2 linked regions of the Homo sapiens genome follow. The protein of the gene in region 1 binds, or shares a complex with, the protein of each later gene. Each region holds a gene or a part of one and is shown on either strand. Other genes may lie near its edges.

Evidence for each region. Proteins that work in one complex are often made in the same cells at the same time.
Region 2: CASC3 (region 1) and MAGOH share a complex: the UniProt entries of both Homo sapiens proteins name them as parts of the mRNA splicing-dependent exon junction complex.

The regions. Positions count from the first base shown.
Region 1 is NC_000017.11:40,164,517-40,168,266, reverse strand, and holds part of CASC3 (protein CASC3), read right to left. Parts: intron 1,471-3,750; coding exon 1,406-1,470; intron 897-1,405; coding exon of another isoform or gene 828-896; exon of another isoform or gene 770-827; coding exon 655-769; intron 418-654; coding exon 319-417; intron 65-318; coding exon 1-64. UniProt on the Homo sapiens protein: Required for pre-mRNA splicing as component of the spliceosome. Core component of the splicing-dependent multiprotein exon junction complex (EJC) deposited at splice junctions on mRNAs.
Region 2 is NC_000001.11:53,231,769-53,235,518, reverse strand, and holds part of MAGOH (protein mago nashi homolog), read left to right. Parts: intron 1-1,866; coding exon 1,867-1,977; intron 1,978-3,750. UniProt on the Homo sapiens protein: Required for pre-mRNA splicing as component of the spliceosome. Plays a redundant role with MAGOHB as core component of the exon junction complex (EJC) and in the nonsense-mediated decay (NMD) pathway.

The DNA.
Region 1 (3,750 bases):
GACACTGGTGGGGGATAGAGGCCTGGATTGGGCAGAGGAGCTGGTGTCTGGTGGGGATGTAAACCTGGATAAGGAGAAGAAAAAAACTGAAAAATAAAGTAACATCATTTTCACAGGATGGCCCGGCTGGACTGCTCAGTATAATCAGGCTCAGAATGGAAGTCCTCAGGATGGACACAAGAGGAACTTGTTGCCCAAGCAGCCAGGATGGCCAGACTCCCAGGCTAGCAGCACAAAGCTCAGGAGGATGGGTTTTGTGGCACTCCCAACATATATCCTCAGGTACTGGAAGCATATAAGCAGAGACACAAAGCTTACCTGGGTGGGGAAGGTTCATTCCTGGCTGCACAAGCATGCCCTGTGGAGGCAGCGGGGCAGGGCTGTCACCATGGGTATAGATTGGTCCCTGGAACTGCACTGTAAGATATCACATTGGGACTCTCATAAACCCTTACTCTTCACATGGACAAGTCTCCTTGTTCCCCAAGCCCTTTAAAAGATGTTCTCAATATTCCATGCGAAGAAAACAGCAACCAGACAATGTTTGATAACCACTATAAGAGGTCAGAAGAGAAATTCAGGAGCCAGGAGCCTGGTATCTTACTTCACTTCACCCTGCCAAGAAAAGTACCCCAACAGTAAGAAAAAACTCACGTGGATCATAGTAATGTCCCTCCATGATACTGATATGCACTGGAGGGGCGGGGGGCTCTGGCACAGGTCTTTGCCGCTGGGATGAATAGCGTTTGGCTCGACCACCCTGGACACCCTGAGACAAAGAAAGAGGCCTAAACAATAAGAATTCTAGAGGGCTCTCATATCAAGTCCTACCTTCCTTTAGGTGTTGAAAAACACTTGGTACATGGCAGGTATTTAATGGATATTTGCAAAGTGAGCTGAAAAATAATGAAAAGATATCAAGATTTGAACCTAAACCTTCTACCTTACATTTAGGAGATCCAAATTAAAAGAAACATGCATAATCAATGGAAAAACTGACTTTATCTTGGCCGGGCGTGGTGGCTCATGCCTGTAATCCCAATACTTTGGGAGGCCAGGGTGGGTGGATCATGAGGTCAGGAGTCAGGACCAGCCTGGCCAACATGGTGAAACCCTGTCTTTACTAAAAATACAAAAATTAGCTGGGCATGATGGCACGTGCCTGTAATGCCAGCTACTCGGGAGGCTGAGGCAGAATTGCTTGAACTGGGACCCAGGAGGCAGAGCTTGCAGTGAGCCGTGATCCCGTCACTGCACTCTAGCCTGGGCAACAGAGCGAGACTCTGTCTCAAAAAAAAAGAAAGAAAGAAAAGAAAAAAAAAAAAGACCTTATCTTGGTTTAAACAATGAACAAGCTGTGTAACAGGCAGCTCCCTCCCCCATCTACCCCTTTCCCCTTCTGTACCATTTCTTCCATCCGGTTAAACTGAGGTGGAGGTCCTGCTCCCATGTGTATATGGTTGGGCATACCTGTAATACACCAAAAAAGTCACTTCTGCAGATCAGACATACGTGAGTGGGACTCAAAGATACTATCAAGAGACAGGTTTAAGTGTCAACATAAGGAATGCCTTTTTTCTTTTAACTAATAAAATTCTCTATAAACTATCTCTGCTTTCTGTCAACACCAGCATTTAGAAATTTGTCCCCACTGTCTGCCATCTTAATATAGCAATAAAGCCCTTGAAAATGAAAAATAAAATGACTTCAGTGAAGAAAATCAAATTCAAATTTTTTCCTATCAAATTGTTCCCTGCATAGAATCCCTGAGAGATTATAATTAGCACATTACATTATCCAACATATTGAAAAATCTCAGCCCAAGAGTTTCTGAGCAACAGCTGGACAAGGGAGGGATGCTTTGTAAATCTACTTGATTATATCCATTCACAGGGGTCTGGGTTGGAAGTTTGAAAGGAGATTCTCCTCTGGCTAAAATGACTCAAGACAAAAAGGAATGTTCTAGAGATTGTCCTCCAATAGTAAGAAGGGTGCTGCAACTCCAATTGAGGAGTTCCAATATTTAAGTTAGATTTCAGACTAAGGGAAGATCCTTTGATCTATCTGGCTGGAGAAAAACAAACCACAATAGGCAAAATGGGTAATAGGTAGGTCTTACTCTCTAAAACTATGCTGCCCAATATGATATCCACTAACCAAATGTGGACACTTAAGTTTCAATTAATTAAAAGTTCAATTCCGGCTGGATGCAGTGGCTCATGCTTATAAGCCCAGCACTCTGGGTGGCAGAGGTAAGACTGCTTGAGCCCAGGAGTTCAAGACCAGCCTGGAAAACACAGTGAGACCCCCCGTCTTTTCAAAAAATAAAAAAAATCAGCCAGGTGTAATGATGTGTGCTTATGATCTTAGCTACTGAGGAGGCTGAGATGGGAGGATTGCTTGAGCCCTGGAGGCGGAGGTTGCAGTGAGCCAAGGTCACGCTACTGCACTCCAGACTCTAGCCTGGGTGACAAAGTGGGACCCATCTAAAAAAAAAAAAAAACAAAAAAAAAAACTATATCTATGTAAACACAACAACAACAAAAACACAAAAGTACAATCATTACACAAAGTTCTATTGGGCAATCTGTCTCTAGAAGATTAAGGAAATAAGGGAGGCTTGCCTTTCAAATATATTAGAGAAGATCTTGATCAAAATTCAACTGAATAAATTTCTGCCTTCAAATATTTAACCATTAGTTCAAATAATAACGTTGTCTTCTTCTACTTTTTGTGGAAAATGATCCTGTACTCAGGAGGCTCAATGATGACCGGGCAGGTGCAGTGTCTTCCATCTGTAATCCCAGCGCTTTAGGAGGATCTCTTGAGCCCAGGAGTTCAAGATTAGCCTGGGCAATATAGCAAGACCCATCACTACAAAAAATTTTTTAAAAATTAGCTGGGGCTGGCACAGTGGCTCACGCCTGTAATCCCAGCACTCTGGGAGGCCAAGATGGGTCGATCACTTAAGGTCAGGAGTTCGAGACCAGCCTGGCCAACATAATGAAACCCCATCTCTATGAAAAATACAAAAATTAGGTGTGGGCCAGGCACGGTGGCTCATGCCTGTAATCCCAGCACTCTGGGAGGCCAAGGTGGGCGGATCACGAGGTCAGGAGATCGAGACCATCCTGGCTAACACGGTGAAACCGTCTCTACTAAAAATACAAAAAAAAAAACTAGCCAGTCGCGGTGGTGGGCGCCTGTAGTCCCAGCTATTCAGGAGGCTGAGGCAGGAGAATGGCGTGAACCCAGGAGGCAGAGCTTGCAGTGAGCCGAGATCACACCACTGCACTCCAGCCTGGGCAACAGTGAGACTCTGTCTCAAAAAAAAAAAAAAAAAATTAGCCAGGTGTGGTGGTGAGAGCCTGTAATCCCAGCTACTCAGGAGGCTGAGGCAGGAGAATTGTTTGAGCCCTGGACGCAGAGGTTGTAGTGAGCCAAGATCGTGCCACTGCACTCCAGCCTGGGCAACAGAGCAAGTCTCTGTCACAAAAAAAAAAAAAAAAAAAAAAAGGCCAGGCACGGTGGCTGTGGCTCACACCTGTAATCCCGGCACTTTGGGAAGCCAAGGTGGGAGGATCACAAGGTCAAGAGATCAAGACCATCCTGGCCAACATGGTGAAACCCGGTCTCTACTAAAAATACAAAAATTAGCCCAGCGTGGTAGTGCACGCCTATACTCCCAGCTACTCGGGAGGCTGAGGCAGGAGAATCACTTGAACCCGGAGGTGGACATTACAGTGAGCC
Region 2 (3,750 bases), on another chromosome or scaffold:
GCATTGTTTTTATTGTTTCTAGTAGTATTGAAAGATAAAGAACAGGGAGAGAGACACATGTCTGTAGACAGCTTCTGGATTATTTCCCAAATCATCTTTTAGTTGGGATTTTTTTATTTTACATTGTGGAATCAATTACTGGTAACCTTTGACATACCTTGGTTTGAACCCTGAGTCTGCTGCTTACTACCCCATGTGACCTTGGGCAAGTTCCTGGCTGAACTTGATAAATCTCTGTTTCTTCACCTGTAAAAACAGGAATAATAAAAGCTACCTCCCACTCCCAAGTGCTGTCATAAAATTAAATATGTTCTATTTAAAGTGCTCTATATTCCCTGTGTACATGGTACACAATGAAGAGCTATTTAATTTACATCTGAGTGGGAAAGGGAGCATGGGAAAGCAGTTGACATCATTGAATGCATGTTAGATGTCAGGCGTGGCATCTTATTTAACCCTGATTGTAAGCCCATGTGATGGGGGAGGGTATTATAGCCCCCTTACAAATAAGAAAATAAAGGCCCAGGTATTAATTATGAGGCTTGTTCTGAGTTACCCCTGCTAGTAAGAGATACAGCAGGAATTCCCAATCCTGCCCCAGTAAAGTTTGTATTCTCCGTTCTGTGATTTCTACTACATCATTAAGGCTTCATCAAAGCTACTCTTTCCTTTTAACCACTTTGCCACCTTTGAAAATGTCTTAGCATATATTTTCATATTGTTATTTTAGCTATTGATTTTATGCTTATTCACACATGTCAATATCCTCACTATTTTTTTACACAGGCATATCTTTTAAAATACATTTTGCTCCTCAGGAGTGTATTACCTAGTTAAGAATAACTGGCCGGGCGCGGTGACTCACACCTGTAATCCCAGCACTTTGGGAGGCCGAGGCGGGCGGATCACGAGGTCAGGAGATCGAGACCATCCTGGCTAATACGGTGAAGCCCTGTCTGTACTGAAAATACAAAAAAATTAGCCAGGCATGGTGGCGGGTGCCTGTAGTCCCAGCTACTTAGGAGGCTGAGGCAGGAGAATGGCATGAACCCAGGAGGCAGAGTTCGCAATGAGCCGAGATCGCACCACTGCACTCCAGCCTGGGCGACAGAGCAAGGCTCCGTTTCAAAAAAAAAAAAAAAAAAGAATAACCAGGGCATGTGGGTGTCGCAGTCTCTTTTTTGCTGCAACAAAATGCCTGAGACTGGGTAATTTGTAAGCAGTAAAAATATATTTCTCACAATTTTGGAGGCTGGAAAGTCCAAGATCAAGGCGCTGGCAAGTTCAGTGTCTAGTGAGGGCCCAGTCTCTGCTTCCACAACTGTGCCTTGTTTTTGCATCCTCCAGAAGGAATGAATGCTGTGTCCTCATATGGTGAAAGAACAAGAAAGGGGCCAGCTAGTTCCCTTAAGCTCTCTCCTAAAGCACTAATCTATCCCTGGGGCCTCTGCCCTCAAGGCCTGATCACCTCCTAAAGGCCCTATCTCTTAACACTGTTGCTTTGGGGATTAATTTCAGTATGATTTTTTTGGAGGAGACAAAAACATTCAAACCATGGCAGGGGGCACTCACAGACCTGTTTTGGGTTTCGTTGTGAGTTGGGTATGTGGGCAGGCAGAAGGGCCATGTGAACAGGATGTACCAGGAGGTAGTAACAGCTAGATAGGGGACTGAGGTGCAGTTACTGGATACTTCTGACCGTGTCCCTCACCTGCATCATGCCGAGGTTGAGCATGAATGTCTTCCCACTTAAGGAGATGCCAGAAATAAGTCTGCAGGAACAGTTATTTTTATCTTCCATCACTATCTGAGTCAAAGCACTGCTTAAGGATACAACATACATTTTGTTTTTTAACTTGCGTTCAGGCTTATGTACATAAAAGCGTGATGGAGGAACTGAAGAGAATAATTGACGACAGTGAAATTACCAAAGAGGATGATGCATTGTGGCCTCCTCCTGACCGAGTGGGCCGGCAGGTGTGTTTTATTGATTATCCTGTAGTGCAGAAATCTTACAAATAAGACCCCCCACACTCCCTCCTCCACTTAAAGCTTTTGTTGCCTATCTCACTTACTAACTACTATGGACAAAGCATTGTGGAGATACAAAGAGAAATAGAACATAATTATTTCAACAATCTAATGAAAGGAAAATCATACAAATAATTCAGTGTATGTATTTAAATTCATGTATATTTATATACATTAATGTATATATTCATTCTGAGCACCATTTTGGTAACTAAAAAATAAAAGCCACTGTCATATTGAACTGAATTAACAGAAAAGGTATTTTCACTCTTGACTGCTACCATCCTAATCCAGACTTCTAATAGATTTCCTTGTTTTTCCTCTTGTTCCATACCATCCATTTTTCCATCCTGAAAGCCAGTGTGATTTATTTATTATTTTTTTTTTGAGTTGGAGTCTCGCTCTGTCGCCCAGGCTGGAGTGCAGTGGCATAATCTCAGCTCACTGTAACCTCTGCCTCCTGGGTTCAAGCGATTCTCCTGCCTCAGCCTCCCGAATAGCTGGGATTACAGGCGTCCTCCACCATGCCCAGCTAATTTTTGTATTTGTAGTAGAGATGGCGTTTCACCATGTTGGCCAGGCTAGTCTCAAACTCCTGACCTCAGGTGATCCGCCTGCCTTACCCTCCCAAAGTGCTGTGGTTACAGGCGTAAGCCGCCGCATCCTACTGGTCTGATCTTTAAAAACGTAAATTTGCTTATGTATTCCACTGATTTAAACTCCAATGGCTTCCCACTGTACTTAAAATTCAAACTCCCACCTTATCTTTTACCGGGCTTCCAATCTGTCATGGTGTTCAAACCTTACTAGCTTCATTTCTGTTCCTCAGACATACCTAGGTGGTTCTTACTTCAGGGCCTTTGCACTTGCCACATTCCGCCTAAAATATTCTTCCTTTAACTTTATACAAGACTGTCTCTATTATTGAGGTCTTCAAAAGTCACTTCCTCAGTGATGTCTTGCCTGTCCATCCAATCTAAGAAGTCGCTTCCCATCATTAAGAAAAAGATCTGTTGTGTTGTCTTTTTGTGTTTTTTTTTCTTTTTGCTTTCAGTTTTATCACAATATGTGTTGTCTTTGTAGCACTTGCTATTGTCTAAAATTGTCTTACTTGCTTTTCAGTGTTTTCCACTGCTGTATCTCTAGTGACTAAAATAGTACCCATGTATAGTAAAAGCTCAATAATAATGTATTTGTTAAATTAATATGAAAACCCATATAAACTCATTCCTAATAATCTCAAAATGATGGACCAACCCTTGAAGAGTTTTTTTTAAAAATCCACCCTCAGTACTTACTAAAGTTAACTTTAATTTATGTTCAAGGGAGCTCAGTAATATCATATATATGTATTTTGCTTTACCACTTATAAAATTTTTATTTCTATTAACTCGTTCTACCATCACAACAATTCTGTAAAGAGGGAAGGGCATATTCCTTTGTACCAGCAATAAGCCATTGGATACTGTAATTAAAATCAATTCCATTAATAATTGCAAGAAGAGTTATAAAGAACTTGGGAATGCATTTAACAAGATGTACAAAACTTGAAAGGGCTTTATAGAAGGACAAAAATATGTATCGTTTTTGTGGATGGCAAGATTCAGTATCATAAAGATGTCAGTTTTCAACAAAGTAATTTATAAATTCACTCTTAATTCAAATAAAAATCGCAGTAGGATTTTTTTCCCTTTAGAATCAAATAGAATGAGCATTAAA